4 linked regions of the Homo sapiens genome follow. The protein of the gene in region 1 interacts with the protein of each later gene in a pairwise test. Each region holds a gene or a part of one and is shown in the gene's direction. Other genes may lie near its edges.

Region 1 (7,227 bases):
AGTGAAGACTTACTGTGTATATAAGCAGATTTGAAATTAAAAATATAAAAGATCTTCTGAAGTTGCAACAGTGCTCAGAAGTATTATAAAATAGAAATAAATCATTTCCAAAAGAGAGATTTCATTTTTGCCCAAAATCTTTCTTCTAAGCTATAAAAGACAAAACTGTTCAATACACAGTTTTGTCAATTTAAATCTACATATTCACCCAATTTTTATAAGATAAAATAAAAATGTATAATTATTGAAAAAAGAATTGAGAGCCCAGAAACAGAGCTAAGGAAATATGCGACTTTAGTGTATGACAGAGGTGGCATGTCATATCAAGAGGAAAGGAGGAAATGTTTGAGAAATGAAGCTTGAAAAAAAAATAGTTATTTAATTAAGTCGGATTCCCTACCTCACATCATATACAAATATCAGCTGAAGATGGATTAAAGGCTTTAAAAGTGAATCAACATTTTAAAAACTTTTGGTAGACTATGTTGGTAAACATTTTAATCCTTGAGGTATAAAAAGACAAGACACAAAGTGTTTTCTATAAAACTTTTGATAAATTTGATTATATTCTTAATTTCAATTTATTATATTTTTCAGTTCTAGAATTTGATTCCTTTTTTTCAGTTTCAAGTTCTCCAGTAAACTCTCAATCTTAATTCCTTGAATATATTAAGTATAGTTACTTTAAATTATATGTCTGAAAACTTCATTATTTGGATCCTTTGTGGTATGTTTTTATTGCCTGTTGCTTTCTTTTAAAAAAAAATTTTTTATTTTGCCTCCTCATATGTGTGGTTATTTAAGATAAAATACCAGTCATTTTCTGTGAAAAAGAGTAAAGATTTTAGGCCTACAATATTATCTCCCTGCAGAAAATTTTCTTCTGGCTAGTGGCCGGGTACACTAGCAATCCCAGGTCACCTAAAATCAGTGAATGATTTAGGTTATTTGAAGTTGGGCTTTCATCCCTGAAATCTGATATGTTTCCAGTTCACCCTTACTCCTAGGGTATAGCTCTTTCAGACCTCAAATCCCCCAAAGCCTTGGGTATTTATCAGATCCCACATCCTTGGCAAACTCTCAACTCCTTTATTTTTTCCCTATAGTTTATTGAGAGTTCATCTCAATCTTCTTAACCATCTCTTAGAAAATTGTCAGGCTATATTCAGATAAAAGTGGCCTCTCATTCTGAACTGTGGGTTTTCTTCTCTCATATCTTGGTCGCATGGTTTTTCATGACCTTGTTAGCTCTCTAATGTCATTAGAGAAATTTTGTTTCATATTTTGTCCACTTTATTCTCATGGTTGAATTGGTCCAGTTTACAGATTATCATCTATCATTACCAAAGTAGAACTTCTTTTTATTAACGTTTACTTTATGCTTTCTTCAGTAACTTGTAAAAGTATCTAAATGTTTGGTTGTTCAATAGGACTTTAAGTAATTCTTCAGTCATTTATGTTAATTGAGAAAATGTATAATAAATATCACTACTAGGTTCAACACCTAGTGGAGATACATCAGACATCCCTTCTGACTTCATTTGAAACTTTGTCTAATAGGATAGAAGAGGCATACATAAATGATTATCATGTAAGATTTTAAAACTTTTAAGGGCATAAGAAAGGTATAGGTCAAGTCTTGCACTGATTTAGAGAGGAGAAATATTCCCTCCATTGCAGAGGATGAAGTTAGGCTTTATAGAAAAGAAGCTTTGAGCTGGGGTTTCAGCCTTACACTGAATCTTGCATTGGGTAAAAACGGGTATCTGTCATGATTCTTGCCTGTCAGTAGTTTTTAACCATGTTGTGCAGAGATGAAAGTAATTCTGATGCAGTAGTAATTGTATTTCCACACATTGAGAAGATTCAAAGCAAAATCTCATAAACAGTGATTTTTTTTGAGAAGTAAGTAGAATTTCTTCCCTGTAGTAGAACTATTATGTGACTAAATGTTTTTGAACTTTGGCTTATTGACCAGTTTGTTTATTTTTCTTTTATGTGCCATTTAAAAATATTTAAAATAAACTTTTATTGAGATACAATAAAATCTACCCGAATATGTCCTGCTACATAACCACAATCAAGCTATGGAACATTTCCATCACCCCCTAAAATTTCCCTGGTCCCCTTCTCGCTCAGTTCCCTACCCTGCCTCTGCCTCAGGCAATTACTAATCTGCCTTCTGTCACTGGAGATTAATCTTTTCTAAAACTGCATGTAAATGGAAGCATACAGTATACTTTTGTATCTGGTTTCTTTTGCTCAACATGGTTTTGAGATACATTCATTTGGGAGTGTATACCCATAGCTTGTTTTTTTGTTTTTTTTTTTTTTTTGAGATGGAGTCTTGCTCTGTCGCCCAGGCTGGAGTGCAGTGGCACAATTTCGGCTCACTGCAAGCTCTGCCTCTCGGGTTCACCATTCTCCTGCCTCAGCCTCCCAAGTAGCTGGGATTATAGGCGCCCGCCACCACGCCTGGCTAATTTTTTGTATTTTTAGTAGAGGCGGGGTTTCACCGTGTTAGCCAGGATGGTCTCGATCTCCCAACCTCATGATCCACCCACCTCGGCCTCCCAAAGTGCTGGGATTACAGGTGTGAGCCACCACGCCTGGCCAGTTTGTTCTCTTTTATTGCTGAGTTTATTCCATTGTAGGTCTATACCACACTTTGTTTATCCATTCACAGAGTTCACATAGGTTTGTTTTTAAACTTACCAGGAACATCTAGCTACAAATTTATCTTTTTTGCATATTGATTACTCATCTTTGCAATTGAGAGACACTAATATCTTGAATGCTACATTTATAATGCTGTAAAAATGGATTTTGAAGAGGTAGCTCTCATATTGCCTACACAATAGTGCCAGTAGAGTATGCTGCTGTAACACAAGTGTTGGTATCATAACATTTTGACCTTTCAGTTGTACAGAGTACAGATGTGTTTTTATGCACTGTTTCAAAGATTAAGCATAAGAATGCTAATACTGGGATACTTATAAATGTTGTGATAGCTAAGTAGACTCTCAATGTCATTAAATAAAAACAGTACAAAATACATTATCAGTTTTATTAGTTATTGCCTGTAAAATAAGGAATTTGGGCTTAACTATGTTTCTAAATTTAGTGTTTCAAAATTTAATACTTTGCAAAGTAAAATTGTTATGTAAATAATGTGCATGTCTTGCTTTTTAAAAATATGACTTATTGCTATAGCTTATGGCATTTGAAAAGGCAATATTTTCTTTTGGAACTGGATTTCTGGTTCAAATACTAATTTAACAAACTATTATACTATATTCTATCATGAGCTTTTCTAGTTTTATAGAACTGTAAAATTTTTAATTAAAACATTTTTTAAGTTTGCACGTAAAATTTCTTATGGAAACTAGCTATCTTAACATTTTTTTGTTTCTTGGTATTTCATCCTTAAAATGTTGATCCACATTTAGTAGATACTCTTGTGTATGTCATTTTTATGTACAACACATGTACAATTTTCTAATAGATTTCAATTTTTAAAAGCATAGGCTCTAAATTTAATGACTTGAGTTCACATTTCCACCCTGTCACTGTGAAACTTTGGGCAAGTAATTCATCTCTTTACAGTCAGTTCCAGGCCAGGCTCAGTGGCTCACGCCCATAATCCCAACACTTTGGGAGGCCAAGGTGGGTGGATCACTTGAGCCTGGGAGTTTGAGACCACCCTGGGCAACATAGTGAAACCCCATCTCTACAAAAAAATAGAAAAATTAGCTGGGCGTGGTGGCATGTGCCTGTAGTCCCAGCTACTCAGGAGGCTGAGATGGGAAGATCACTTGAGCCTGGGAGGCGGAGGTTGAGGTGAACCAAAATCGCATCACTGCACTCCAGCCTGGGCAACAGAGTGAGACCCCCATGTCAAAAAAACGAACTAAACTCAGTTCCTCGTTTGTAAAATGGGGATGAAAGTAATTCTTGTACAGATTTAGGAGATAATTTACAGAGTCCTTAACACAACAACTGGACCAAATACATACTTGTTGAATGAATGGGTAAATGCCATTCTTTGTTGTGTACAAACCTGCAACTATTTTTTAAAACTTTGATTTGTTATTAATGTCAACTTGGGATTTTGCTTTAAATCCCAGGTGAGGGGATAGTTACTTCCTGAACATGGCTATAATTTATCAAATACTGTTAGATAGTGATTACTTGATAAGAATGATAAAAGGCATTCTTGAGATTGTATACTGTTCTATTTTTATTCATACATATTTGGATGCTATTCAAGGTTATTGGCTATAATGGGCAGGGAGGAGGACCTAGCAAGTCTTTAGGTCTATGTGACTATTACATTTAAAAAATTTTTTTTTTCTATTCAGTCCCTGAAAAACAGCTGAATGATATTGAAGATTGTGACCTCAATGTGGTGAGACTGTGTTTTCAAGTTTTTCTCCCTGATGAACATGGTAATTTGACGACTGCTCTTCCTCCTGTTGTCTCGAACCCAATTTATGACAACCGTAAGTACTTCATTTTCTTATATTTGTAGTCTTAACTTGTTTTTTGTAATAGTTTAATTCTTAAAATTATTTTGGTAATTAGGAAAACAATATATTCATGATAGGAAAACTTCCAGACATTAGAGAAATATATAACAGAAAGGAAATCTTCTCTAATCTCATCCTCCAGAGATAATCACTATCCTTAGGTGCATATTTTACCAGTTTCTTCTTCCTGTATATACACAGATACATTGTCATCATCATCATTTTTGACACAGTACAATTTTGGCAACTTAAAATCATAAGTGATGATTGTTTTAAAAACTAACTTTCTTCTTACCATATATCTTGGACATTTTCCTTTTAATCACCTTATTCTTTTCAGTAGCAGCATATTTTATTATGTAGTTATATCATAATTTTATTAATTACCCTCTTACAAGGCATTTGGTTTGTTTCTTTTCTCATTTTTTCTTTTTGGCCTAGCAAACTGTACTGCAATACATATTCTTGTATATTTTTTTTTATTGGTTTTTTTTTTTTTTTTGGAGACAGGGTCTCACTCTGTCACCCAGGCTGGAGTGCAGTGGTGCAGTCATGGCTCACTGCATGGCAAATGCTGGCTCAAAGGATATGGATATATCTCATTTTGAAAGATTATGAAACTTTCCCCCAAAATACTGTGTGTGTGTGTGTGTGTGTGTGTGTGTGTGTGTACGTGTGTGTGTGTGTACATAGACTTAGATATACGTCCACCAATGGTGTATGATATACCTGTTTTATGTGTAGAAGGATAGAGAGACTTAGGGCTATAAAGGAAGCATGAAAGTTGTATTGCCATAGGGAGATGTATTGCCATAGGGAAAATTGTATTGCCATGGGGATGTGGTCATGATTTATGAAGATTAATCTGGTGACAGTGGGTAGGATTGATTGGCGGAATCAGAATTTAGAAGCAGGGAGATGTAATTAGAGAATATGTCATTACCTAGAAATGAAGCCACAAAGTCTAAAGTAAAGCAGTTAGAAAGGAAGTGGACAGATAAATAGATGATTAATGTATTTAGTGTCATTTATCTATACACTAAAACTTTTATTCTGTGAATGCTTTTCCTCAAATTCTTCCCTGCAAAAAGAAATAAAATATTACTAAGGTAGCAACTCATTTTTTTGAAAATCCTTTATATTTAGGTGCTCCAAATACTGCAGAATTAAGGATTTGTCGTGTAAACAAGAATTGTGGAAGTGTCAGAGGAGGAGATGAAATATTTCTACTTTGTGACAAAGTTCAGAAAGGTATTTATTTATTTCATTGAATTTAGAATAAATTTTAGATTAATAGATGCAGTTACTTTGTTTTCCCATTTTTTTTTTTTTGGTTTCTTATTGACTAGATGACATAGAAGTTCGTTTTGTGTTGAACGATTGGGAAGCAAAAGGCATCTTTTCACAAGCTGATGTACACCGTCAAGTAGCCATTGTTTTCAAAACTCCACCATATTGCAAAGCTATCACAGAACCCGTAACAGTAAAAATGCAGTTGCGGAGACCTTCTGACCAGGAAGTTAGTGAATCTATGGATTTTAGATATCTGCCAGATGAAAAAGGTATGACATTTTGCTGGTAATAATTTATATATTTCTTGAAGTGGTCCTGCTAATAACATCTTCTTGTAATATTCATTTGAGTACAGTTATGTATATTCATAATTTATGTTTCTTTTCCTGGAAGCTTTCTGTTGGTTTTTTCTTTATGCTCTTTGCATCTCTTTATTTGTTGGGTTGTTTTTTGTTTTGTTTTGTTTTGTTTTTGAGACAGAGTCTCACTGTCACCCAGGCTAGAGTGCAGTGGCGCAATCTTAGCTCACTGTAACCTCCTCCTCCCGGGTTCAAGCGATTCTTCTGCCTCAGCCTCCTGAGTAGCTGGGACTATAGGCACGTGCCACCACGCTGGGCTACTACTTTTGTATTTTTAGTAGAGACAGGGTTTCACCATGTTGGCTAGGCTGGTCTCTGCATCTCTTTCTTCAAGAAGAGGTTTGATTAGTATGGAATAATTTCAAAGTATCTAAACTGCTTACTAAAATTTCTATTTTATTTTTGAAGGTCTGTTTTAGTCTTTGTGCACTTACCACTCAGAGAGTAGTCTCTATATTGGTTTCTTATCAAACCTTATTGCATTAGTTGACATTATTGACTTGTGTGATAAGAAAACAAGATGAATATTTTAAACAGCTTGTTTTGGGTTTTTTTTGAGACAGGGTCTCACTCTGTCACTCAAGCTGGAGTACAGTGGCATGATCGTGGCTCACCAGAGCCTCAGCCTCCTGGGCTCAGGTGATCATCCCACCTCAGCCTCGTGAGTACCTGGGACTATAGGTGCGCACCACCACACTTGGCTAATTTTTGTGGGGTTTTTTTGTTTTTTTGTTTTTTTGTTTTTGAGATGGAGTCTTGCTCTGTCTTGCCCAGGCTGGAGTACAGTGGCGCAATCCTGGCTCACTGCAGCTTCTGCCTCCTGGGTTCAAGCAATTCTCCTGTCTCAGCCTCCCAGGTAGCTGGGACTACAGGCATGCGCCACCACACCCGACTCATTTTGTATTTTTAGTAGAGATGGGGTTTCACCATGTTGGCCAGGCTGGTCTCAAACTCCTGACCTCAGGTGATTCACCCACCTCAGCCTCCCAAAGTGCTGGGATTGCAGGTATGAGCCACTGCGCCTGGCCAATTTTTCTGTTTTTTTA
Region 2 (7,227 bases), on another chromosome or scaffold:
ACCGGGAGCCCGTGAGGGGAGCGTCCAGGCCCTGGGCCATGTTCCTCACGCCCAGGACTGGGAACTCGAGGGATGGAGGTGCCATTGTGGGGTGGCCTGGAGGCCCTTGCCATTTGGTGCTGCAGACCCATGGCCCCAGGGCTCCAAAGGCACAGCTTTGTGAGGTGGCAGCTGTTGAGCTCGGGGGACGTGGCTGGCACTGCTGGGGAGCTGGCACTATATCTGAATTACCAGACGTCAGGGACATGAGGCCAGTGGCTCCCGCATGAGATGCTGCAGCTGAGAATTCACTCAGCTGCAGATGCTCAGCGGGCAGGACGTGGGTGTGAGGGAGGCAGGAAGCAGAGCTGCTACCCCAGTGCCCATCCTCTCCCTGGCATTGCACACCTGGGCCCCAGCAAGGGTCCTTTTCTGTGCTCCTGCCACTCCCTTCAGTCAATAAAAGCGTGGAGGCCTTCCCCATGTTCCCAACCCAGGTTTTCTGTTATGGCCTTGCACAGGAAGGGGACCCTCAGTCTTTGGGGCAGCCGTGGGTTCTGCCACAGCAGGGCTGCTAGTGTCCCTAGTGGTGGTAGCAGGAGGCAGAGCCTTGCGAGTGTCCCAGGATGAGACCCCACTCCCACTGTGTCCCCCAGAGAATGCAAGCGCACGCAAGGGGTGTCCACCACAGACCTCGTGGGCCGCATGCTGCTGGTAACCAAAGCCCATCACAGCAGCCAGGTGAGTCGGCGGCGGAATCCCCGAGGCCCCTGGGTCGAGGTCTCCAGGGGAAAGGAGGGGCACCTCCCTGCCCTCTCAGGGTCCTCCTGCCCACTGCTCCCCATCCCCAGCCGGTTCTGGGGTGGCCACGCCGGGAGGGCAGGCCCCTCAGCCCTGCTCTGACCTTCTGTGCAGGAGATGTCCTCTGAGTACCGGGAGTATGCAGACAGTTTTGGCAAGGTGAGTGCGGCTGTGCAGGGAGAGCTGAGCACGCAGCTGCAGGGGGCTCCCCCGGCCACCTGTCCCAGCCATCCCTTGGGGAAAGGCCAGCCCAGAGCCTCACCCTCCTCCCTCTGTCCCTGGCACTGACCAGGCACTGACTGCCAGGTTTGGCTCACTGGTGGATGCTGGGAGGGAGGGCAGGCGGGTGGTGGCACCGGCTGGCCGGTCACGGCAGCCACTGCTTGGAGGAGCAAGGATTTGCCTGTGGACAGGTGGCCTCTAACCAAGTGGCCTGGCCCTCTCTCCCATTGTAGCCCCCTCACCCGATACCCGCCGGGGACATACTTTCCTCAGAAGGCTGCTCCCAGGTGACCAGACAGTGGTCTCAGGGTACCAGGTCCCTCCCAAGGGCTGTGTGCACCTGCCACAGGGCTCCTTGCCTCCTCCTGGTGGTCGCTTGCTGGGCTGAAGTGGTGTCTGCTGCGGTGCCTGCTGTGGTTGTGGGGTGGCGCCACAGTCCCACCTGCCACCTGGCCTGGCAGTGTGTCCCCTGCCCGAGATGACTGGCTGGAAATGGGATTGCTGGCAGGTGACAGCTGAGGGTTTGGTGACCTGGTGAGGGCAGCACCTGGGAGGCCTCCCCCGCCAACCTGCTCCCTCTCTTGGCTTGCAGTGCCCTGGTGGGCGGAACCCCTGGACCGGGGTATCCCAGTTCCTGCAGACATCTCAGAAGATCATCCAGTTTGCTTCTGGGAAGGAGCCCCAGCCAGGGGAGACAGTCATCTATGTGGCTGGTGCCTTCGACCTGTTCCGTATCCTCTGGGCCTCTGCTGCTCCCCTACATGTGCCACATGGGGTGGGACCCGGGGGCCTCACTTGACTCCTTGGGGCCCCCAGACTGGGCTGGCTGGTTTGCAGGGGAGCAGCTGTCAGCAGGGAGGATGGCGGGGAGGCCCTTGGGCATGAGCTGTCAGGGAGCTGCTCCCTGTCATCCCCATCCCGACTGCTTCTTAACCTGGGTGCAGACATCGGGCATGTGGACTTCCTGGAGAAGGTGCACAGGCTGGCAGAGAGGCCCTACATCATCGCGGGCTTACACTTTGACCAGGTCACTGCCTTCTTGCTCCCTGGGCCCCTGGGCAGCTGATGGGCCCTCGAGGGGCCCTAAGCGTTGCTGTTAGGTGCAGGTGGTCTCTGGGAAGGGGCCCCAGGTGAAGTCACAGGAGACCCTGGGGGGTGATCGTAGGCTTCTGGGGTCCAGGGCTGTCCTGTCTGGGGCATCCCCACAAGGGCGAGCAACCTCCCCGACTTCTTCCCATGAGGGACAGCCGGGAGGGGCACACCCTGTCCCCCCAAAAAGTCTCCGGGCTGAGCTAGCCGCACTCTGGCCGCAGGAGGTCAATCACTACAAGGGGAAGAACTACCCCATCATGAATCTGCATGAACGGACTCTGAGCGTGCTGGCCTGCCGGGTGAGTGGGGGCCAGGAGCCAGCCCAAGGATGGGGAGACATTCCCACAACATCCCCCCTACTAAGGGCCTCCCTGAGCCAGGGCAGGGGGGCTTGGGTCACTGGCAGAGCTGCACCCAGCACCCCGAGTTCTGTGGCACCTGCCCATACCTGTTTGTTGAGGCATGAGGAGGGGTGGTCAGGTCTCCAGATGCTGTTCCTTCTTGTCTCATGGAGGAGCCCCAGGGGTCCCCAGCCTGCCCAGCCCATCCCTGCTACTCACTGGCAGCCCCGCCCCATGTCTGAGCCGTCTCTCACCACCCTGTGGCCCTGGCTTACCAGTAGCAGGGACCGAGCAAGTCTTTCTGCCCCCACTGTCCCCACAGTACGTGTCAGAAGTGGTGATTGGAGCCCCGTACGCGGTCACAGCAGAGCTCCTAAGTCACTTCAAGGTGAGGCTCCGCATGGGCTCACCTCGTTCCCTCTGTTCACCTCTGTTCCTGCATGGGCTGGGAATGCAGGCTGGCTGTGGGCTCCTAGGCGGGGCCCAGGAGGTACCTGGGCTGAGGAAAGGGCAGGGTCAGCTCTCCCAACCCCCGGGGCCTGTGCTGGGCTGTGGGTGGCGACGGCCGCTGCCTCCCCGGGGAGGGCTCCTGACCCCACTCCTTCTCCAGGTGGACCTGGTGTGTCACGGCAAGACAGAAATTATCCCTGACAGGGATGGCTCCGACCCATACCAGGTGGGTCATGCTGGCCCTTGCTGGGCACAGGGGTTGCCATTGGCACCTCCCAGCCATTTAATGACTCACTGTGCCTGCCTGGGAAACGGGCATGGTGGCGCAGCTGCTCCGACTGCACCACTCCCATGGGACCCTGGGCGCTGGTCTCCCTCTGGGGCAGGGCATCAGATGGGTCTTGGGGAGGTCAGCAGGGACCTTCATCCCGCTCCTCCTCTCTGGACCCCCAGGAGCCCAAGAGAAGGGGCATCTTCCGTCAGATTGACAGTGGCAGCAACCTCACCACAGACCTCATCGTCCAGCGGATCATCACCAACAGGTGCAGTTGGGTGGGGGCACCTCGGAGCCGCCTCATGGGCGCTCTCCGCTAGACTTACCGTGCCCTCCCCCTCGGAGCCGCCTCATGGGCGCTCTCTGCTAGACTTACCCTGCCCTCTCAGGTTGGAGTATGAGGCGCGAAACCAGAAGAAGGAAGCCAAGGAGCTGGCCTTCCTGGAGGCTGCCAGGCAGCAGGCGGCACAGCCCCTGGGGGAGCGCGATGGTGACTTCTAACCTGGCAGAGGCCCTGGCCGGCCCTCCCCCTGCTCTGCTTCTGCGCCTTCTGCGTTTGGACATAGGACTCTGCAGGGCCGCCCTCTCTAACTGGCCTGGCTCTGGAAGGGCTGGTGAGGACTCTGCCTCCTTGCCTGCCTACAAGGTGCCTGGTTTGCAGCAGGCTCTCCGCTCTTTCCAGCAAAGCTGCTCAGAGAGGGTGTCCAGCACAGTGGAGAGGCCGGAAGTGAGACGGGCAGACGGCACCTGCAGCCTGAAACGCACCGCTCCTGCGTGCGCCCCCACCTGGTCCCCGGATGCCCCCACCACCTGGACAGAGGCCACACTGACTGCCCACCCAGCTGTGGCGGGAGGTGCAGAGCAGAGGGCTTTAGGGAGCAGTGACTGCGGTCACCCCTTTAGTTCTCTGGGTGTAGACCACACCACCTCCCACTGGGCACCCCCCAACACGGTGTCCTGCCACCCAGCGCCTGGCTCCAGGAAAACACGCTTGCCTTCCTTCCCGGCAGCTTCGCCACTCTCCTTATGGACTCTGTTCTGTTTGTACATGGCTGACGGAAATCTCTTTGGTACAACCGAATAAAGCCTGGTGGCAGTGCTGCGCGGGGCTCCCAGCCCTGCTGGGAAGGACCAGGGAACCACTCAGCAAGGAGACCCTCTTGGCCCTGCCCCCACCATGCACCCAGCAGCCGGGAGTGCAGCGGGCAGCCTGGCAGTGAGTGAAACCCAGGCCTCCAGCCCTCCAAAGCCTGGGGCCACCCCCTGTAGCAGGCGATGCTAGAATAAGGAGGAGAGCCAGAGCTGAGGCTCCTTGCCCCTTGGCCCCTCCAGGGGCCATGGGATCTCTGTCTCCCACACCCCTGTCACGGCCCGCCTGGAGCAGCCCAGAGGCCGAAGAGGTTCTTACTGCAGCCTCCGGGAGGTGTCTAGGGAGGCCATAGATTGCCTGGTCTCGCCGCATTCAAAATGAGGCTTATGATCAGTACTTTTTTCAGCCCCACATTCCTCTCCAGAATGGCCTCTGCCCTACAGCACCTGGCCCATGTGGCACCCCATGGGCCTGTCCTCTGCTGTTGTGAGGTCGACCTCACGACCCAGCACAGGAGCTGGAGGCGAGGTGCACGCGAGGCTCTCCACAGCCCAGGAAGGCAGCCTGTCACCCTGCTCTCCGAGCCAGGGGCCAAGGTGTGGGGGGCACAGGCCATCCTCATCCTGCCAGGCCCCCGCTTTCAGGAGTGGGGTGGTGCCAATGCTCCCACTCAGAACCCTGGACTGCGGGGTCCCCTGAGCAGAGGGACCAGCCAGTTCCCCATAGACAGATTGGTGCTGGACAGGGGCTGCCTGGGCCCCAGGCTTGGGGAGGGTAGAAAGGCCCTGCAGTGCTGCTGCCTGGGCCCGGAGGTGGGCCTGGCCCCGTAGCAGCATTGGAGGCCAGAGCCCAAGCCAGTTCCGGAGTCACACCCAACGGCGGAGGGAGAACCTACCCATCTCCCACCTTCAGCTCTGGGGAGGCATGCTCTGGGCCTCTGGAGCCAGGGCTCAGGCCCCCAACTCTCCTCCTTGCCCCTGCACCCTCGGACTTGGCCTGGCCAGAAGGGATGGGGGCAAGAGGAAGGCAGCCAGGGGCTCCAGCCCATGCCCTCACAGATTTGGCTCTCGAGTTGGGGAGCGAAGGGCTGGGGGAGGACACTGGGAACCGGGCCAGCCGTGGCCCTGCACTTCCCCCAGGGAGCACCAAGGCTAGGCGCGGCTTCACCGCGGGGCTGGGTCGTGGCCAGCTTCGCCCCTGGGTCTGAAGACCTCTGGGCGGCCCAGGCCAACCTTGCCCTGCCGCCGCACACTCGGCTGCCTTCTCATACCCAGGCTTGGGGATTTCCAGGTCCCGTTCCCCTCGTGGCCTGGCTGCCAGTCCTCCAGCACCCCTCACTCCGAGGCCGCCTCATTTATTTATTCGTTTGCCATTAACTGCGGGGTGAGCGGAGTAGGGGAGACCTGGGGCGCCATCCCGCGCCGGAGGGGCCTGGGGTCACCGAGTGGGACGGTGGGGGCGGGGGGCCCCCAGCGGTGCCAGGAGAGGTCCGGGCTCAGGCGGCGAGGCAGTCGGCTGCGCGCAGGGACAGGAAGACGTTCGCCTTGCACTGGTAGGTCCCGCGGCCGTCGGGGAGCCGCTCGCACCTCTGCAGGTTTGGGGCGACGTCCTGGACGCACACAGCCTGGGGGGCAGGCAAGCAAAGGCTGAGGGGCCGCCGCACCCCCACCCACGTCCTGCCGCCGCCCCCCATCAGTCCCCGGCACGCCGGACTCACGAGGCTCCGCAGCCTGGGGTGCAGTTGCAGCTCCGGGGAGGCGCCGGCCCCGCCCGGGGGTTCCGCCCCTCTGTAGGGCTGGGAGCGCCGCGCGTACGGGGACCTGCGGAGGCCGGACAGCAGCCCCGCGGCGCGGCCCACCGAGTAGGAGCTGTGCCCCGCCGCTGGCTTGTACCACGCGAGGCCAGGCGGCGCCAGCAGCAGGCACAGCGCCAGGGCGGCGGCCGCCAGTGTCGCGGACCGGGCCATGGGGACGCCGGCTGACTGGTGGGCGGCGGCGTCCGGGCTCGGAGCAGCCACCGCCTGGGCCGCCTTATATCTGCGGCGAGGGCGGGCCGAGGCTGCGGAGGGCCGGGAGGGGCGGCGGGCGGGCTGGGGTGCAGCGGGCGCGCGCGGAGGAGCCGTCGCACCTCCGCATCCCAAAGGAACCAGCCGCGCGGGCGAGCGCTGGAGGCGCGCAAGGATCTGGCGCTTGGTGGGAGCCCAACGCCCCCTCAAGCTCCCCACCCATGCCGCTCGCGCCCTTCAGGCCCGGCTTGCGTGGGCCGCAGTGGCAGCAGGGGAGGGCCCACGGGCGCCCAGCCCTAGGAGTCGTCCCCCAGGCAATCCCCAGTACTCCTGATGCTGGAGAGCCAGCCACACTGCACAGTGCCCCGGGGGCGGTTTCTACCACCCTAAGGGGTATTCTTGGCTCCAGGCATCAGAGTCCATGTGGCTTGTGGGGCCCTCATTTCTTTCATGCCCACTGGGGAAGGTTCCACCAGCAGGGCTGTTACTGGCGGGGTCCTCTGGGAGGGGGGCAAGAAGGCCAGCCACACCAAGGCACTGGAGCTCCACGACTCCTGGCCTTCGATTGGAGGCCCCTCTCTGCCAGCTCTGCCCCTTGGGGGGCACCAGGCAGGACTGCCAGCCGCTCTCCTGGCAGGTGACATCAGCCTTCAAGCTCACTGTGCCCTCACCATTTCATGCTCCCCCAAGGTCCTGGTCATGTCTTCTCTTGGGTATCTTCCCAGGACAGGCACTGGCACTGGAGCCCTGGCACTTGTTTCTGGGTTCCATGCTTCCCAGGTGTGATGGTGAATGCTGAGTGTCAGCTTGACTGGATTGAAGGATGCAAAGTATTGTCACTGGGTGTGTCTGTGAGGGTGTTGCCAGAGGAGATTCCCATTTGAGTCAGTGGGCTGGGAGAGGCAGACCCACCCTCAATCCAGGTGGGCACCACCTAATCGGCTGCCAGCACAGCCAGGATACAAGCAGGCAG
Region 3 (7,939 bases), on another chromosome or scaffold:
GGGAGTCTGAGGCAGGAGAATCGCTTGAACCTGGGAGGCAGAGGTTGCAGTGAGCTGAGATCATGCCACTCTATGCCAGCCTGGGTGACAGAGTGAGACCCTGTCTCAAAAAAATAAAAATAATATAAAAGAAAATTTTTTACTATTGGAAAATCCTTGGAAGTAGATCTGAAGTCTTCCATGAATTTGAATATCCCATGCTAGATATACAGTTTTCAAATAGGGCGGAGCTGAGATATTTGAACATTTTCTTCTCCCCATTTTCTTTCCCCCTAGACTCTGTTCCAGCCTCAGACAGGTGCCTATCAGACCCTGGCCAAAGAGTGTGTGGCCCAAGGCTGCTGTGTAGATCTCTTTCTCTTCCCTAACCAGTATGTGGATGTGGCCACACTCTCTGTTGTGCCCCAGCTCACTGGTGGCTCTGTCTACAAATATGCTTCCTTTCAGGTATGGTGTGGGATTTGGGGCAGCAGGTGGCAGCAGGGCTGGGAATATCTGCTTATATATGCAGTGGCTGACTCATTAATAGAAATAGTGTTGGGGCCAGGCACGGTGCCTCACACCTGTAATCCTAGCACTTTGGGAGGCTGAGGCAGGCAGATCACCTGAGGTCAGGAGTTCAAGACCAGCCTGGCCAACATGGCAAAACCCCATCTCTACGAAAAATACAAAAATTAGTCGGGTGTGGTGGCGGGCGCCTGTAATCCCAGCTACTCAGGAAGCTAAGAATCCCTTGAACCCGGGAGGTGGAGGTTGTGGTGAGCCGAGATTGCGCCACTGCACTCCAGCCAGAGCGACAGAGTAAGACTCCGTCTCCAAAAAAGAAGAAATAGTGTTGGAAGAGAAGACTGCATAGTCTGAAGAAGTGAGCCCGAGAATGTGGCAGTTAGGAACATGGGCCTTGGAATCAGTCCTGCATTGATATTCTGGCCCCACCACTTACTAGCTACATGACCTAGGATAAATTTCTTAAGTACTTCCTCTTTTGTTCCTTCATCTGCAAAATGGTGTTAAAATACTTAAGTAGGATTTGTCAACAGAATTAAATAATTATATGTAAAGCACTCTGTGTGGTACCTGGCATGCAGTCTAAGTGTTTAAAAGCTATTATTGTCATCATCATTATCATCCTCACTGTTATGATGATGATAATTAGGTGGCCTTGTAGAGTGGAAGGGGTACAGGGAGATTGTCTGCACGATGAGCTATGTCTAGTCAGTGACATGACTCTGGACCTGGGGGCCTGCAGGTGGAGAACGACCAGGAGCGGTTCCTGAGTGACCTGCGTCGTGATGTCCAGAAGGTTGTTGGCTTTGATGCTGTGATGCGGGTCCGGACAAGCACTGGTCAGTCCTGATTGAAGAGCAGGTTGGGGGGCTAAATATGGAAGGGAGGCATGTGGCACTTGTCATACTTTTTGCCCTGACCCTGTCCATGTGGCCTCAGGTATCCGTGCTGTAGATTTCTTTGGAGCTTTCTACATGAGCAACACGACAGATGTGGAGCTGGCTGGGCTAGATGGGGACAAAACAGTGACTGTGGAGTTCAAGCATGACGATCGGCTCAATGAAGAGAGCGGAGCTCTCCTGCAGGTGGCAGGCGGGAGGCGGGGCTGGGCAGGAAGTGTTTCATTCGCTTGGTATAGAAGAGGGTGAGGAATGGGTAGAGAGCACTAAAAGAAGAGACAGGGCACGGGAGTGGCTCATTTCTCTCTTCCAGTTTAATAGTGTAGCAAAGGGCCTTTGTGAGGGAGGGGTGTGAGTTCCCCCTTTCTCCTTTCCCCTAGTGTGCCCTGCTTTACACCAGCTGTGCAGGGCAGCGTCGGCTCCGCATCCATAATCTGGCCCTGAACTGCTGCACCCAGCTGGCTGATCTATATCGAAACTGTGAGACTGACACGCTCATCAACTACATGGCCAAGTTTGGTGAGGGTAGAAGCAGGGCAGGGTGGGATTGGGGCTGAGAGGTCCAGGATGGTGAGTGGGTAGTTGTGATGGTGGGAATGCACACATGATGGGCAGCTGACCAGTGACTATCTTTGCTTTCCCATCCAGCATATCGGGGAGTCCTGAATAGCCCTGTGAAGGCTGTTCGTGACACGCTCATCACCCAGTGTGCCCAGATCCTGGCCTGTTACAGAAAGAACTGTGCTAGCCCCTCCTCTGCAGGACAGGTGGGGCAAGTATATTAGTGGGAGGTGGGGTTGTTGGGACAAATGTTTGCATTTGGGAGGGATTTCTCATGATCATTGACTTTATTTTGATAATCCCCTCAGTTGATCCTTCCTGAGTGCATGAAGCTACTCCCAGTTTACCTGAACTGTGTGTTGAAGAGTGATGTCCTGCAGCCTGGAGCTGAAGTCACTACTGATGACCGTGCCTATGTCCGACAGCTAGTTACCTCCATGGATGTGACTGAGACCAATGTCTTCTTCTACCCTCGGCTCTTACCTTTGGTGCGATTGAGGGTTGGAGTATGAGATCTTGCACGGAGCAAAGGGCCTCTTAGGAGGAGGAAAGGATAGGCTAGTATCAGTCAGACACTAGTGGAATTTGTTTTTATGTATTTTAGCTGATGTAATTTTCACACTGAGAGAGTTACTGAGACCCCAGAAGGGGTGGTGTCTGAGGACTTAGCTTTCAAAATTTTGTGTGTGGTGCGGGGGGGCAGACTTGTCTTATGGTCCTTGGTAACCTTTTGCTCCCTTCCTTTTGTCTAGACAAAGTCTCCCGTTGAGAGTACTACCGAACCACCAGCAGTTCGAGCCTCTGAAGAGCGTCTAAGCAATGGGGATATATATTTACTGGAGAATGGGCTCAACCTCTTCCTCTGGGTGGGAGCAAGCGTCCAACAGGGTGTTGTCCAGAGCCTTTTCAGCGTCTCCTCCTTCAGTCAGATCACCAGTGGTTTGGTGAGGGCAGGGAGTCAAGGAGAATATGGGTGTGGAAGTATACTTTGTGAAACAATTGGGAGCCAATATAGTTAGTGTGCTAGTACCCTCAAATATCAGGGAACACTTGGGGACAAGGGCAGTTGCTGTCATTCTTCCCAGGTTTGCCTGTTTCAGATGATGCATACATGTATGCTGCCCCACCTTGACTGAACTCAGAGTGCCTTACCATAAGGATAAATGAATTTTGTGTTCTAGAGTGTTCTGCCAGTTCTGGATAATCCACTGTCCAAGAAGGTTCGAGGCCTCATTGATAGCTTACGGGCACAGAGATCCCGGTACATGAAGGTAACACTGATCTGAACCCTGGATTTCTTACCTTGTCAAGTCCTCACCTAGAAGTGGGGGTTGGGTGGGGAATGAGTAAGTGACTGCCTAATGAGATTTCTGGGCATGTTTAATTTCCTTTGGCCTTGCCTTATGAACCCTGAATTCTGGCCGTAGCTTACCGTGGTGAAACAGGAAGACAAGATGGAGATGCTGTTCAAGCACTTCCTGGTGGAAGACAAGAGTCTGAGTGGGGGAGCATCTTATGTGGACTTTCTCTGTCATATGCACAAGGAGATTCGGCAGCTACTGAGCTAAAGCAAGTGGGTAAATGGCATAGGGCCCAGGCTAGCTTCCAGAAAGCACCCCAGGATGTCAGAGAAATTGGGACAGTAACATATCTTATGTAAGCTGACCTCAGTCTCTCTGGGGGGAGGGGGAGATATAAGGAGACACCTTCTTTCTGGGCTCAAGTATCCTGCCACTCTGTCATGTCCTGCTGATGGAAGGTGCCCCTGTTCCCTCATTCTACCCTCTTTTTCCTGCTAATCCTGTCATAATGAATGTAGCTTCTCAGTTCACTGTATATGATTCGGTATTGGGGGTTTGGAGGCACCCAGACCCTGGCAATATTATGTGTCCCTTTGGACCAGTCTCCCAAGAGGAGAGGGGCAGGCAGGAAAGAGTGGGGATCCTAAGGTTACTACAGGGGGCTCAGTGTCATCCACAACTTCCTATATTAGGGATAAAACATATAGGTGCACAAGAGCTGGGGTATAGCCCATAGGTGGTGGAGAGAAAAGTGGTCAGTCCTTCTTGGGCCTGGAGGTTAGCAGTCAAGTTTCTCTGCTTTCACTGCTCGCTCGCTCTCTCCTGCAATGATTGATGATCACTCCGTGGATAGAGAGGCACACTGTCAGAGGTGACCGGAGAACTGAGTTGCAAAATATATTAAGATCTGGTAGAGGTACCAGCTTCCTTTCCAGCTGGAGAGGCCCCAACACTGGATGGTTCTGTAGGGAGCCTAGGGAGCCTGGTCATCAACTTGCAATACCTCACAGAGCCAGTTCACATCCCACTCTGAGCTCCCACGAGAAACACTGCTTCTCCAGGCCCGGGGTTGTTGGGGAGAGAGGCAGAGGCAGCTGGAGCGCCGTTCTCTCCTGCTGGGACACCGCTTGGGCTTTGGTATTGACTGAGTGGCTGACAGTTATCTTCCAACCCCAACTGGCTTGGGGGCAGGACAAGGGCTAGGCTTGATGGTGGCCAGGCTTGCCTGCTCCCCACCTGGGATGCCCCTGCTCTGGACCTCTCATTTCTCTTCATTGGTTTATTTTTCAATGCATCTTTAATTTGTAAAGAAATAAAATAAATTAAGATGTAACCATTAGCCTCATCTTTACTCCCGAAAGCTCACTTTGCTTTTAGTCCTGGCCGTCGGCTGAGCGAGCTGCGCATGCGCCACGTGCCCCCGTGGCGTAGGGCCTCGTCCGGTCACGACTATCCGCTGGGCGGGGTCGGTGCTGGCCGAGGGGGCGCCGGCTGCCGGAGTGGACATGGCGGCCGGCCCCATTAGGGTGGTGTTGGTCCTTCTAGGGGTGCTCAGTGTCTGTGCAGCCAGCGGCCATGGGTCCGTAGCGGAGAGGGAGGCCGGCGGGGAGGCGGAGTGGGCGGAACCGTGGGATGGCGCGGTTTTCCGGCCGCCCTCGGCGCTGGGCGCAGTGGGGGTGACGCGCAGCTCTGGGACGCCGCGGCCAGGGAGGGAGGAGGCGGGGGACTTGCCGGTACTGCTGTGGTGGAGCCCAGGGCTATTCCCCCACTTCCCGGGAGACTCGGAGCGCATCGAGTGTGCGCGCGGCGCGTGCGTGGCGTCCCGGAACCGCCGAGCGCTGAGGGACTCGCGGACGCGCGCGCTGCTCTTCTACGGCACAGACTTCCGCGCGTCGGCCGCCCCGCTGCCGCGCCTGGCGCACCAGAGCTGGGCGCTCCTCCACGAGGAGTCGCCCCTCAACAACTTCTTGCTGAGCCACGGCCCGGGCATCCGCCTCTTCAATCTTACCTCCACCTTCAGTCGCCACTCGGATTACCCGCTGTCGCTGCAGTGGCTGCCCGGGACCGCCTATCTGCGCCGCCCGGTGCCTCCGCCCATGGAACGCGCGGAGTGGCGCCGCCGCGGCTACGCGCCGCTGCTCTATCTGCAGTCACACTGCGACGTGCCAGCGGACCGGGACCGCTACGTGCGCGAGCTCATGCGCCACATCCCGGTGAGTGAGGGCGGGCCGGAGGGAAGGAAAAGGAGAGGGCGGGTTGAGGCCAGGACTCCAGGTGTCCAGGACTCCAGGTGTCCAGGACTCCAGGTGTCCAGGCCTCCAGGGCCGCACCCTCATGACAGCCTTACTGTACCCGGTCTAGGTAGACTCCTACGGGAAATGCCTGCAGAATCGGGAGCTGCCTACCGCGCGGCTACAGGACACAGCCACGGCCACCACCGAGGATCCAGAGCTCTTGGCTTTCTTGTCCCGCTATAAGTTCCACTTGGCCCTGGAAAATGCCATCTGTAACGACTACATGACAGAAAAACTGTGGCGTCCCATGCACCTGGGCGCTGTGCCCGTGTACCGCGGTTCTCCCTCTGTGAGGGACTGGATGCCGAACAATCACTCCGTCATCCTGATTGATGATTTTGAGTCTCCTCAGAAGCTGGCAGAGTTTATTGACTTTCTGGACAAGAATGATGAGGAGTATATGAAATACCTGGCATACAAGCAACCTGGGGGCATCACCAACCAATTTCTTCTGGATAGTCTGAAGCATCGGGAGTGGGGAGTGAATGATCCTTTGCTGCCTAACTACCTCAACGGCTTCGAGTGTTTCGTCTGTGACTACGAACTGGCTCGGCTGGATGCCGAGAAAGCCCACGCGGCCTCTCCCGGGGACAGCCCCGTCTTTGAGCCCCACATTGCCCAGCCCTCACACATGGACTGCCCAGTGCCCACACCTGGCTTTGGCAATGTGGAAGAGATTCCTGAGAATGACAGGTAAGAGTGCTGGGGTCCCCTGCAGCTATCAAATCATTTACTTACTTGCTTACTGTGGGCAATTAAGTAGCACTAGGTGCTGAGCAGGTGCAGGAGGAAATTATCACATGGGCTCATTCTGTATTTAAGGTGTCAACAGTCTAGTTGGGGGGATAAGACAAGCTGAAAAAGCTGAATAGATGTAAAATATAATTCAAGGCAACGTATGAAAATCAGCTTATGTGAACAATGTTTCCAGTAGTGGTTCAAAAAGATTGAACCAGAGTACAGGGCCTGTGCAGACAGGGGAGAGAGAAAATGGGGCAAATAAATAGGGACAAGGCTATAAATATCATTAATACCAGGTTCAGGAGTTTGCACTGCACTAAAAATCAACTCAGCTATTTGAGCACCTTTTATAGAGTGGAAATGGGGTTGGGCAGTAGAGAAGAGCACTTTTAGAGAGGCTTTTCTGCAGTAGTCAGGGGTTACACCTGTTAACCAGCCATAATTTTTTTTTTTAAGCGGCTGTGCTGAGGATGAGCCCCATGTAGTTGGTGCAGGTGGGGACACACTGCCTGTGTAACTAGAAAAACTAGGCATGGCCGGGCACGGTGGCTCACACCTGTAATCCCAGCACTTTGGGAGGTCAAGGGGGGAGGAACACTTGAGGCCAGAGACAATATAATATATAATATAATATATTGACCAGCCTGGACAATATAATAAGAGCCTCTCTGTACAATTTAAAAACTAAAAGCCTGGGGTGGTGGCACATACCTGTAGTCCTGGCTACTTGGGAGGCTGTGGCAGGTGGATTGCTTGAACCTAGGAGTTCAATGCTGTAGTGAGCTAGGATCGTGCCACTGCATTCCAGCCTGGGTTGGAGTAAGACCCTGTCACACACACACACACACACAAAACAATGCACAATGCGCATCAGAAGGGAAGCGAATAGGCTACTGTAGTAGGTGGCAAAAGGTGGTGGTACTGGGAAACAAGGCCAGCGTGTGGTGTGGGGTGGGAAAATGTTGAAACCACTTGTAGCAAGCCACACCTATTGGGGGAGAGGTGATAAGATTATTAAGCTGAAGTAAGGCTGCTAGAATGGCCTATAGAAACCGACTTGGACAGTGGATGGCAGCAGAAGGCCATTTATTAACAGATGCTGCTGGCAGTTTTGTCCTGATGGTTGGAATCCTTCACCAAGTAATTTGTATCTAATTACAAATTGTTTGTATCTGAACATAATATGATTTACTAGAGGAAAAGTATGAAAAAATATGAAACATTAAGAAAATAAATATTCAGGTTATGTCTTTTCTAGATACTGGATGCTACTTCATTTTGATGCACCTTCATTTTGATTATTGGCATAAAGGTGAAACTTAAAAGATAATCATCTAAAGACCCCTGCCCCCTTGCTTTCCTTATGGAGACTGCCACTTCCAGTCTGGCCTCTGCTTTGCCTGCCTCTGAACCCCCTCCACATTTGGGAGCCAGAAGCAGGCAAGTCAGGAATCGTAATTGATTGGGTAGTCTGTGTGATGTCTTTGTGTTTGTGACTTACTGCCTGTCGCTTGGGCTTATATTGGATTTACTTCACTTTGTCTTCCTTTCACAGCAGTCTTGTCCAAGTTAGAGACCACTGTATCTGCTTAAGATTTCTTTGGCCCCACTCGGAAAAAGGCAGGACTCATAACTA
Region 4 (7,227 bases), on another chromosome or scaffold:
TGCCACGTTGGCTAGGCTGGTCGTGAACTCCTGGCCTCAAGTGAACGATCCCCCTCGGCTTCCCTAAGTGCTGGGATTACAGGTGTGCCACCGTGCCGGCCAGATTTGTGTATCTTTTTAGTGTTTCGCATTGATGGAATCTTCCATTCAGTGGAAATTTGTTGAGTGCCTGTTATGTGCCTAGCAAGTGAAACTGAAGGCAGAAGTTGTATTCTAGGGGAGCTGAGATTCTAGGGATTCTTATCATAATAGTCTGACTTGGTTATTAGAATCACCTCCAGTAGATTACTTTGGGGTAAGAGAAAGAGGGATAAGTACTTGGCTGTATGTTTACCAAAAACGGAATTTAAATCATTAACAGTCCCTAATTCATGAATAGAGCAATAAAGAAATCAAAAAGATAATGGCAGGCTCTCTCAGATATTTTTGAAATGTATTCTGAGGAAACACCTATATTCACTCTGATAAAAGCTAGATAAAAGGCCTAAATTTTCTGCAGTAGTCAATTTAAGAACAAATAACTTTTCTAGATAGTGGCATTTTTCCTTTGTGACATAGTAATGCAGATTCACTTTGTAGCTAACTTTTGCAAAGAGTTCCTGCAGAGCAGCTTTTTTTCTACTTTGTATTCCTCCATGTTTTTTTCTGCTGCCACTGCCCACAGAGTTCAACTTTCTGTTTATGGGGCCGATGTAGGACTCAATGTAATAAAGCAACAGCAGTGTCTTGAGAAAGAAGTTTCATTAGCAAATAAAACATTTGCTAATAAAAAATTTGCTTCTAATTTTTAAAGCTGAAGAAACGTGCCACACTGGAAGGATAATCCACGTCACCTTGTTAAAGGTGATCTTGGCTAGGCGCGGTGGCTCACGTCTAATCCTAGCACTTTGGGAGGCCAAGGCGGGTGGATCACTTCAGGTCAGGAGTTTGAAACGAGCTTGGCCATCGTGGTGAAACCCCGTCTCTACTAAAAATACAAAAAAAAAAAAATTAGCTGGGCATTGTGGTGCATGCGTGTAATCCCAGCTAATCGGGAGGCTGAGGCAGGAGAATCGCTTGAACCCGGGAGGCATAGGTTGCAGTGAGCTGATATCGTGCCACTGCACTCTAGCCTGGGTGACAGAGCAAGACTCCATCTCAAAAAAAAAAAAAAAAAAAAAAGGTGATCTCTTAGACTTAGATTTAATATACTGCAATATGTTGTCCCAGAAGCGAAAGACATTTACAATTGGCTGGAAGTAGAATTTGAGCCACTAAAACTCTGTGAGCAAGTCATTCGGTGATCACTGATGGGTAGCATTGGACCAACAACTAGGGCATCTAGATTAGAGTCCTCATTGTGCCCACAGAGTGTAGACTTCTAGAAGGATACCAGTTAGTGTCAAGTGAATGGATTAGCTGACTGCCAAGAGGCATTTGTCAACTTCTTGAGTTGACCATATATCCAAGGTCAATACCTGAGCGTTAGGCTTCCATAACCAAATTTATGAGACAGAGTGATTCCATTATCTCAGGAAAAGACTCAAACATTCCTAAGAGTGACTTTTAAATCGGAAAGTAAACCAATCATGTATTTTAGTGAGAAATATAATTTAGTAGATTATGGCAGCCTTTCACATTTCCCTATTCGGAAGGGGACTGCATGAAGAATCTAAAATAACTTGATAGGAATGAAATTAGAGCTGGGAATTTTTTTTTTTCTCTTAAAGGCAGATTCTAAGTTAGGGAATTTTATTTGTATGCATATACCACACCTTATTGCAGTAAAGATATATGGATGCTTATAAGGAGGAAGTGTTAGAATGTTGTAGGATTTCAGCCTTGTACCCATTTTACATTAGAGTTAACCTTAGACCTGAGTGCTCCCATGTGTGGGTGCCCTCCTTGCTTGGGGATGCGATCTGCCAATATTTGCCTCAGTTTTGTCACCCACTCTCTATGGGTACACACTTCTGTGCTTTGCTCTATCCCAGCAGTTATTTTGTCCTTGGGTTAACAGTTCCTAAAAAAAATGACATATTCCATGGTAAAATTGAAGTCCATATAAATGGGGTAATATGTGAAATTCTTTTCTCACCGCTATGTTTGTGAGATTTATTCATGTGTTCTATGTAGCTGTTCTTTTTTGAGCATTTTTGTTTATTTTATGAATACACCATATGTGAATTCTCCCCAGTTTGGGGCTATTAGAAATAGTGCTGCCATGATAATTTTTGTGTGATAATTTATATAAAAGTAAAACTGGTATTTTCCTTGTTATTGGTAATAAAATATTCTATTGGCCACAGTAGTTGTCTTTGTGAATATTTAATTGGTTGTAGTTGTGTTTTTTAGAGTTTCATTTCCTTTTTACATACTTGTGGGGCTTTTCACGGTAGGTTAATGTGCATAGTGTGGGGCAAAAGACCCAGCATAGTTGTACTTTGGATTCATTTTTGGTAAATTTAGAGGAGGTTGAGGCTTGATGATTTTTTAAATCATTTTCCAGATTTCCAATGCTATCATTTATACTAAGTTCAGAATTTTAGTTGGAAAATTTCCTTTGGCAGTTACATCTTTTGTTTTGCTTACTGTAGGTCAGATTTAATGTACTACAATATGTTGTCCCAGAAGTGAAAGACCTTTACAATTGGCTTGAAGTAGAATTTAACCCATTAAAACTCTGTGAGCGAGTCACAAAGGTAAGCCTTTGTATTTAAGTTCTGGTTGTTACCACAGAGTTGGCCTTCTTGCAGTTTTGGGTTGTATTCATATTTGTTAAGAGAGAAGTTTTGTCCTATGTGTTGGAATTCAGTGCACATTTCATTGTCTTTTTTCTTTATTTCAAGAGAAAAGATATATCTGATGTGCTCAGCAAACCTTTGGAGGTTAATTAGCAGCATGACTAATTTAGCCATTGCTGCCAGTCACCTTCAAACAAGTATCAGTAGCTTCATGATACATTTTGTATTTCTTTGCATTGGATGATGTTTTTGTATATTAAAAAAAAAAGAGTTTTAGATGTTTTAGTATCTCTTATGTAGAAAGTGTGATTCTCTTTCAATTTAATGGATTTTATAGGTTCTAAATTGGGTTAGGGAACAACCTGAAAAGGAACCGGAATTGCAGCAGTATGTGCCACAACTGCAAAACAACACCATCCTCCGCCTTCTGCAGCAGGTAAAAATAAAAAAATAAAAAAAGTTTTGTGATGTTATGTGCTCATCATGAAACTAAAAACTGGAAAAATCTAGAACTGCCTAGGAAGTGAGAACCTCCCCAAGTTCTGCCCCTGGCAAAAATTAGTCTATTTATTAATTTGAAAATCAGAATTATTATATTTACATATTTTGTAACGGACGCTTTTGTTTTTTGGCTGAACACTGTCTTTGGGCATTTTTCCTTGTTAGTAATGTAGGGCTACCTTATTCCATTTAAGGTACTGTGGTGTATTTATTCAGACTCTCTTGATGAAAACCTGTATTCCTAGATTTTTTTTTTCCCTGTTAGAAATCTTGTAGCATTGAGCATCTTTCATACATGTATCTTTGCATACTTCTATTACTTTCTGTGGCATAAGAAGTGGAATTAGTCATAGGGTTTATGGATTTAAAGCTTTAATAGCTATTCAGAAGCCTGGATTAATAGACCCCCCACCATGAGTGAATGAGACAGCCTTTTCATATATTTTAGTCCAGGGGCTTAAGTCAGTAAGTGCTCCCATTTTGTTTTCCATTTGTTGCATTTGGGAAGGAGGGCGTTTTATTATATTTTCATCTCAGTATTTGTGCACATTTCATTGACCTGCTTTCTTTTATGTGAGTAGTGTTATTTCTTATGTGCTATACAAATAATTGAAGGCTAATTAGCAGTATAACTATAAATAGTAATGCTGCCAGTCTCCTTCAGACAAAAATTCTATAAGAAGTGTTTAAATATATTCGGTAAGTAGCAGGTTTTTAGGCTTTTTTGTTTTACAACAACTAGGATTTGAAAAGATTATAGGTTTGAGGAATAGTATGATAATGGTTCTCAAAGCATGGAGTTTAGAGTCGATGGTCTGGGATTAGCATTCTGGCTTTAACAATGTACTGCTAACATAAATTCTCTGGCATAATTTCTACTTCCCATGACTGTCATGAGATTGCACATAAAAAGTGCTGAATAAACAGTGGCTAGTGTTATTAACCCTTTGTTTTCTATGCAGGTGTCACAGATTTATCAGAGCATTGAGTTTTCTCGTTTGACTTCTTTGGTTCCTTTTGTTGATGCTTTCCAACTGGAACGGGCCATAGTAGATGCAGCCAGGCATTGCGACTTGCAGGTAGGTATGTGCTGTAAGGAGACAGGAGAAGGCCCTTGAGGGCTAGAAAGACACATACCTTCTGTTTCTCAGCTTTTGGTACAGTGATACCATTTTAAAGTTTACTGAGTGAACTTTTCCAGCTTTTGTATATGACATTCTTCTGTTACTTTTTGACTTCATGCTTACTTGTGGATTTAACCATTGATAATTTAATTTTCAAAGGTTCGTATTGATCACACTTCTCGGACCCTGAGTTTTGGATCTGATTTGAATTATGCTACTCGAGAAGATGCTCCGATTGGTCCTCATTTGCAAAGCATGCCTTCAGAGCAGATAAGAAACCAGCTGACAGCCATGTCCTCAGTACTTGCAAAAGCACTTGAAGTCATTAAACCAGCTCATATACTGGTATGCATCTTCCCGGGGAAATAAATCCCAGAAGTTTTGAGGGACTCTTAACGCCATGCCATGTCTTTTACAAAAAGGTTTGAGACAATATCTGAGAGAAGGGATTTATGATATGTTTCCTATAGAATTGTACTTGGTAGTTTTGTTATTTGATCAAATACACAAATCATTGAGCTTTCTTCCATTGAACAAAATACTACTCTGTGTAGGTAATGTAATAGGGTGGATTATGTTACAGAAACAACAGAGTGGACATAGGATTCCTCAAATAGTGAAATACAGTGACTGGATTTTTCCCTCCTGCTTAAGTTATTTCTTTTTTTTCTTTTTTGAGATGGAGTCTCACTCTCACCCAGGCTGGAGTGCAGTGATGCCATCTCGGCTCATTGCAATCTCTACCTCCTGGGTTCAAGCAATTCTTGTGCCTCAGCCTCCTGTGTAGCTGGGACTACAGGCACGTACCACGTGCACAGCTAATGTTTTGTATTTTTAGTAGAGATGGGGTTTCACCATGTTGGCCATGCTGGTCTCAAAGTCCTGGCCTCAAGTGATCCACCCGCCTTGGCCTCCCAAAAGTGATGGGGTTACACGCATGAGCCACTGCCTGTAACAAGTTATTTCTTGTATGTGAGCTCTGTTAATGAACACCTAAGGTAGGTTTGGTGCAGAGAAAAGTTGTCTTATCTAGGAGAGCTTCTTTAGCTGCGTCATTGCTATTAAAAGACTGAATAGGAGCAACACCATAGCATTTAATACCGAAAACAAACAGCTTGGATAGTGTCATCTTCCATTATCAAATGCAGATACATAGAAAGGCAGTACATCAGGATTATTTTGTAATTTCTTTGATGCCTAATACCAGAGAATGTTAATTTTGGTCATGTAAAAAAATTCATTTGTTTTTGAAGCAAGAGAAAGAAGAACAGCATCAGTTGGCTGTCACTGCATACCTTAAAAATTCACGAAAAGAGCACCAGCGGATCCTGGCTCGCCGCCAGACAATTGAGGAGAGAAAAGAGCGCCTTGAGAGTCTGAATATTCAGCGTGAGAAAGAAGAATTGGAACAGAGGGAAGCTGAACTCCAGAAAGTGCGGAAGGCTGAGGAAGAGAGGCTGCGCCAGGAAGCAAAGGAGAGAGAGAAGGAGCGTATCTTACAGGAACATGAACAAATCAAAAAGAAAACTGTCCGAGAGCGTTTGGAGCAGATCAAGAAAACAGAACTGGGTGCCAAAGCATTCAAAGATATTGATATTGAAGTACGTAGCATCTTAGTTATTAAAAAATTAGTTTTATCCAGGTATTTTGTACTCTTAGAACCACAGTCCTTTACCATTTGTTGGCTTACTGGGTTATTTCATGCATTTTGGTACAGCTGGTCATGACTAAATCTGTGAGTAAGCATATGTTTATTGCTCTGTGAAGTTTTGTGTTTTTTTTGAGACGGAGTATTATCTTGTCGCCCAGGCTGGAGTGCAGTGACGTGATCTCAGCTCACTGCAACCTCCGCCTCCCGGGTTCAAGTGATTCTCCTGCCTCAGCCTCCCAACTAGCTGGGATTACAGGCGCCTGCCACCATACCTGGCTAATTTTTGTATTTTTAGTAGAGACAGGGTTTCACCATGTTGGCCAGGCTGGTCTTGAACTCCTGACCTCAAGTGATCTACTTGCCTCAGCCTCCCAAATTGCTGGGGTTATAGGTGTGAGCCACCACACATGACCTGTTTCATAGACACCTTATACACATAGCCTGAAGGTAATTTTGTACACTATTTTACATAATTTTGTGCATGAAACAAAGTTTTGAATGCATTTTGACTGACCTGTCACATGGGTCAGGTGTGGAATTTTACACTTGTGGCACCATGTTGGTGCTCAGAAAGTTTTAAAATTGGGAGCATTTCAGATTTTGGGTTTTTGGATTAGGTTTGCTTACCCTATTTAGTAGAGTCTGGGTAGATGTAGGTTGGAGTAGTGAGAAAAGGATGTATGGATATTTTTTTCCTTATGGTCAAATGGAAATAAGGCTATTGTATAATATTTTTACATTTCCTAAATTATCACCCATTGTAACAATAAAAGCAATGTAGGATTTTATTCTAGAAAGCAGTGAGTTATGTTAGGCATTGCTTGTTTCTCTTTATTAACAATTGTGCATTTGTATTACCTTTCAGGACCTTGAGGAATTGGATCCAGATTTTATCATGGCTAAACAGGTTGAACAACTGGAGAAAGAAAAGAAAGAACTTCAAGAACGCCTAAAGAATCAAGAAAAGAAGGTAAATGAAAGGGTTGGTAAACCTTTAACATACCAAGTTAAGAGAGATTTTTTAAAACTACGTGTGTTTTCGTGTCATTCAGATTGACTATTTTGAAAGAGCCAAACGTTTGGAAGAAATTCCTTTGATAAAGAGCGCTTACGAGGAACAGAGAATTAAAGACATGGATCTGTGGGAGCAACAAGAGGAAGAAAGAGTAAGTTTTTTATTTAATTGTAATATTTTTAGATTGTAATAAAATCCTCTGCCAGTAATGGA

The links.
Region 2: the proteins of REL (region 1) and PCYT2 interact in binary tests that used the Homo sapiens proteins (3 or more experiments, as listed by UniProt).
Region 3: the proteins of REL (region 1) and POFUT4 interact in binary tests that used the Homo sapiens proteins (3 or more experiments, as listed by UniProt).
Region 4: the proteins of REL (region 1) and EIF3A interact in binary tests that used the Homo sapiens proteins (3 or more experiments, as listed by UniProt).

The regions. Positions count from the first base shown.
Region 1 is NC_000002.12:60,912,516-60,919,742, forward strand, and holds part of REL (proto-oncogene c-Rel), read left to right. Parts: intron 1-4,361; coding exon 4,362-4,502; intron 4,503-5,675; coding exon 5,676-5,780; intron 5,781-5,878; coding exon 5,879-6,091; intron 6,092-7,227. UniProt on the Homo sapiens protein: Proto-oncogene that may play a role in differentiation and lymphopoiesis.
Region 2 is NC_000017.11:81,901,266-81,908,492, reverse strand, and holds part of PCYT2 (ethanolamine-phosphate cytidylyltransferase), read left to right. Parts: intron 1-635; coding exon 636-720; intron 721-894; coding exon 895-939; intron 940-1,235; coding exon of another isoform or gene 1,236-1,289; intron 1,290-1,594; coding exon 1,595-1,733; intron 1,734-1,946; coding exon 1,947-2,029; intron 2,030-2,315; coding exon 2,316-2,393; intron 2,394-2,757; coding exon 2,758-2,823; intron 2,824-3,045; coding exon 3,046-3,111; intron 3,112-3,338; coding exon 3,339-3,427; intron 3,428-3,548; coding exon 3,549-3,660; 3' UTR 3,661-5,744; coding exon of another isoform or gene 5,745-5,873; 3' UTR 5,874-5,966; coding exon of another isoform or gene 5,967-6,215; 3' UTR 6,216-7,227. Other genes in the region: NPB (neuropeptide B preproprotein), read right to left, coding at 5,745-5,873, 5,967-6,215. UniProt on the Homo sapiens protein: Ethanolamine-phosphate cytidylyltransferase that catalyzes the second step in the synthesis of phosphatidylethanolamine (PE) from ethanolamine via the CDP-ethanolamine pathway.
Region 3 is NC_000010.11:73,767,561-73,775,499, forward strand, and holds the start of POFUT4 (GDP-fucose protein O-fucosyltransferase 4 isoform 1 precursor), read left to right. Parts: upstream 1-4,715; 5' UTR 4,716-4,773; coding exon 4,774-5,481; coding exon of another isoform or gene 5,482-5,542; intron 5,543-5,574; coding exon of another isoform or gene 5,575-5,606; exon of another isoform or gene 5,607-5,629; coding exon 5,630-6,255; exon of another isoform or gene 6,256-6,260; intron 6,261-7,858; coding exon of another isoform or gene 7,859-7,939. Other genes in the region: protein transport protein Sec24C, read left to right, coding at 277-447, 1,250-1,346, 1,447-1,592, 1,787-1,925, 2,055-2,173, 2,276-2,455, 2,720-2,911, 3,149-3,238 and 1 more. UniProt on the Homo sapiens protein: Protein O-fucosyltransferase that specifically catalyzes O-fucosylation of serine or threonine residues in EMI domains of target proteins, such as MMRN1, MMRN2 and EMID1. Attaches fucose through an O-glycosidic linkage.
Region 4 is NC_000010.11:119,056,678-119,063,904, reverse strand, and holds part of EIF3A (eukaryotic translation initiation factor 3 subunit A), read left to right. Parts: intron 1-2,576; coding exon 2,577-2,681; intron 2,682-2,793; exon of another isoform or gene 2,794-2,922; intron 2,923-3,060; coding exon 3,061-3,159; intron 3,160-3,766; exon of another isoform or gene 3,767-3,894; intron 3,895-4,186; coding exon 4,187-4,303; intron 4,304-4,507; coding exon 4,508-4,693; intron 4,694-5,601; coding exon 5,602-5,949; intron 5,950-6,864; coding exon 6,865-6,969; intron 6,970-7,051; coding exon 7,052-7,165; intron 7,166-7,227. UniProt on the Homo sapiens protein: RNA-binding component of the eukaryotic translation initiation factor 3 (eIF-3) complex, which is required for several steps in the initiation of protein synthesis.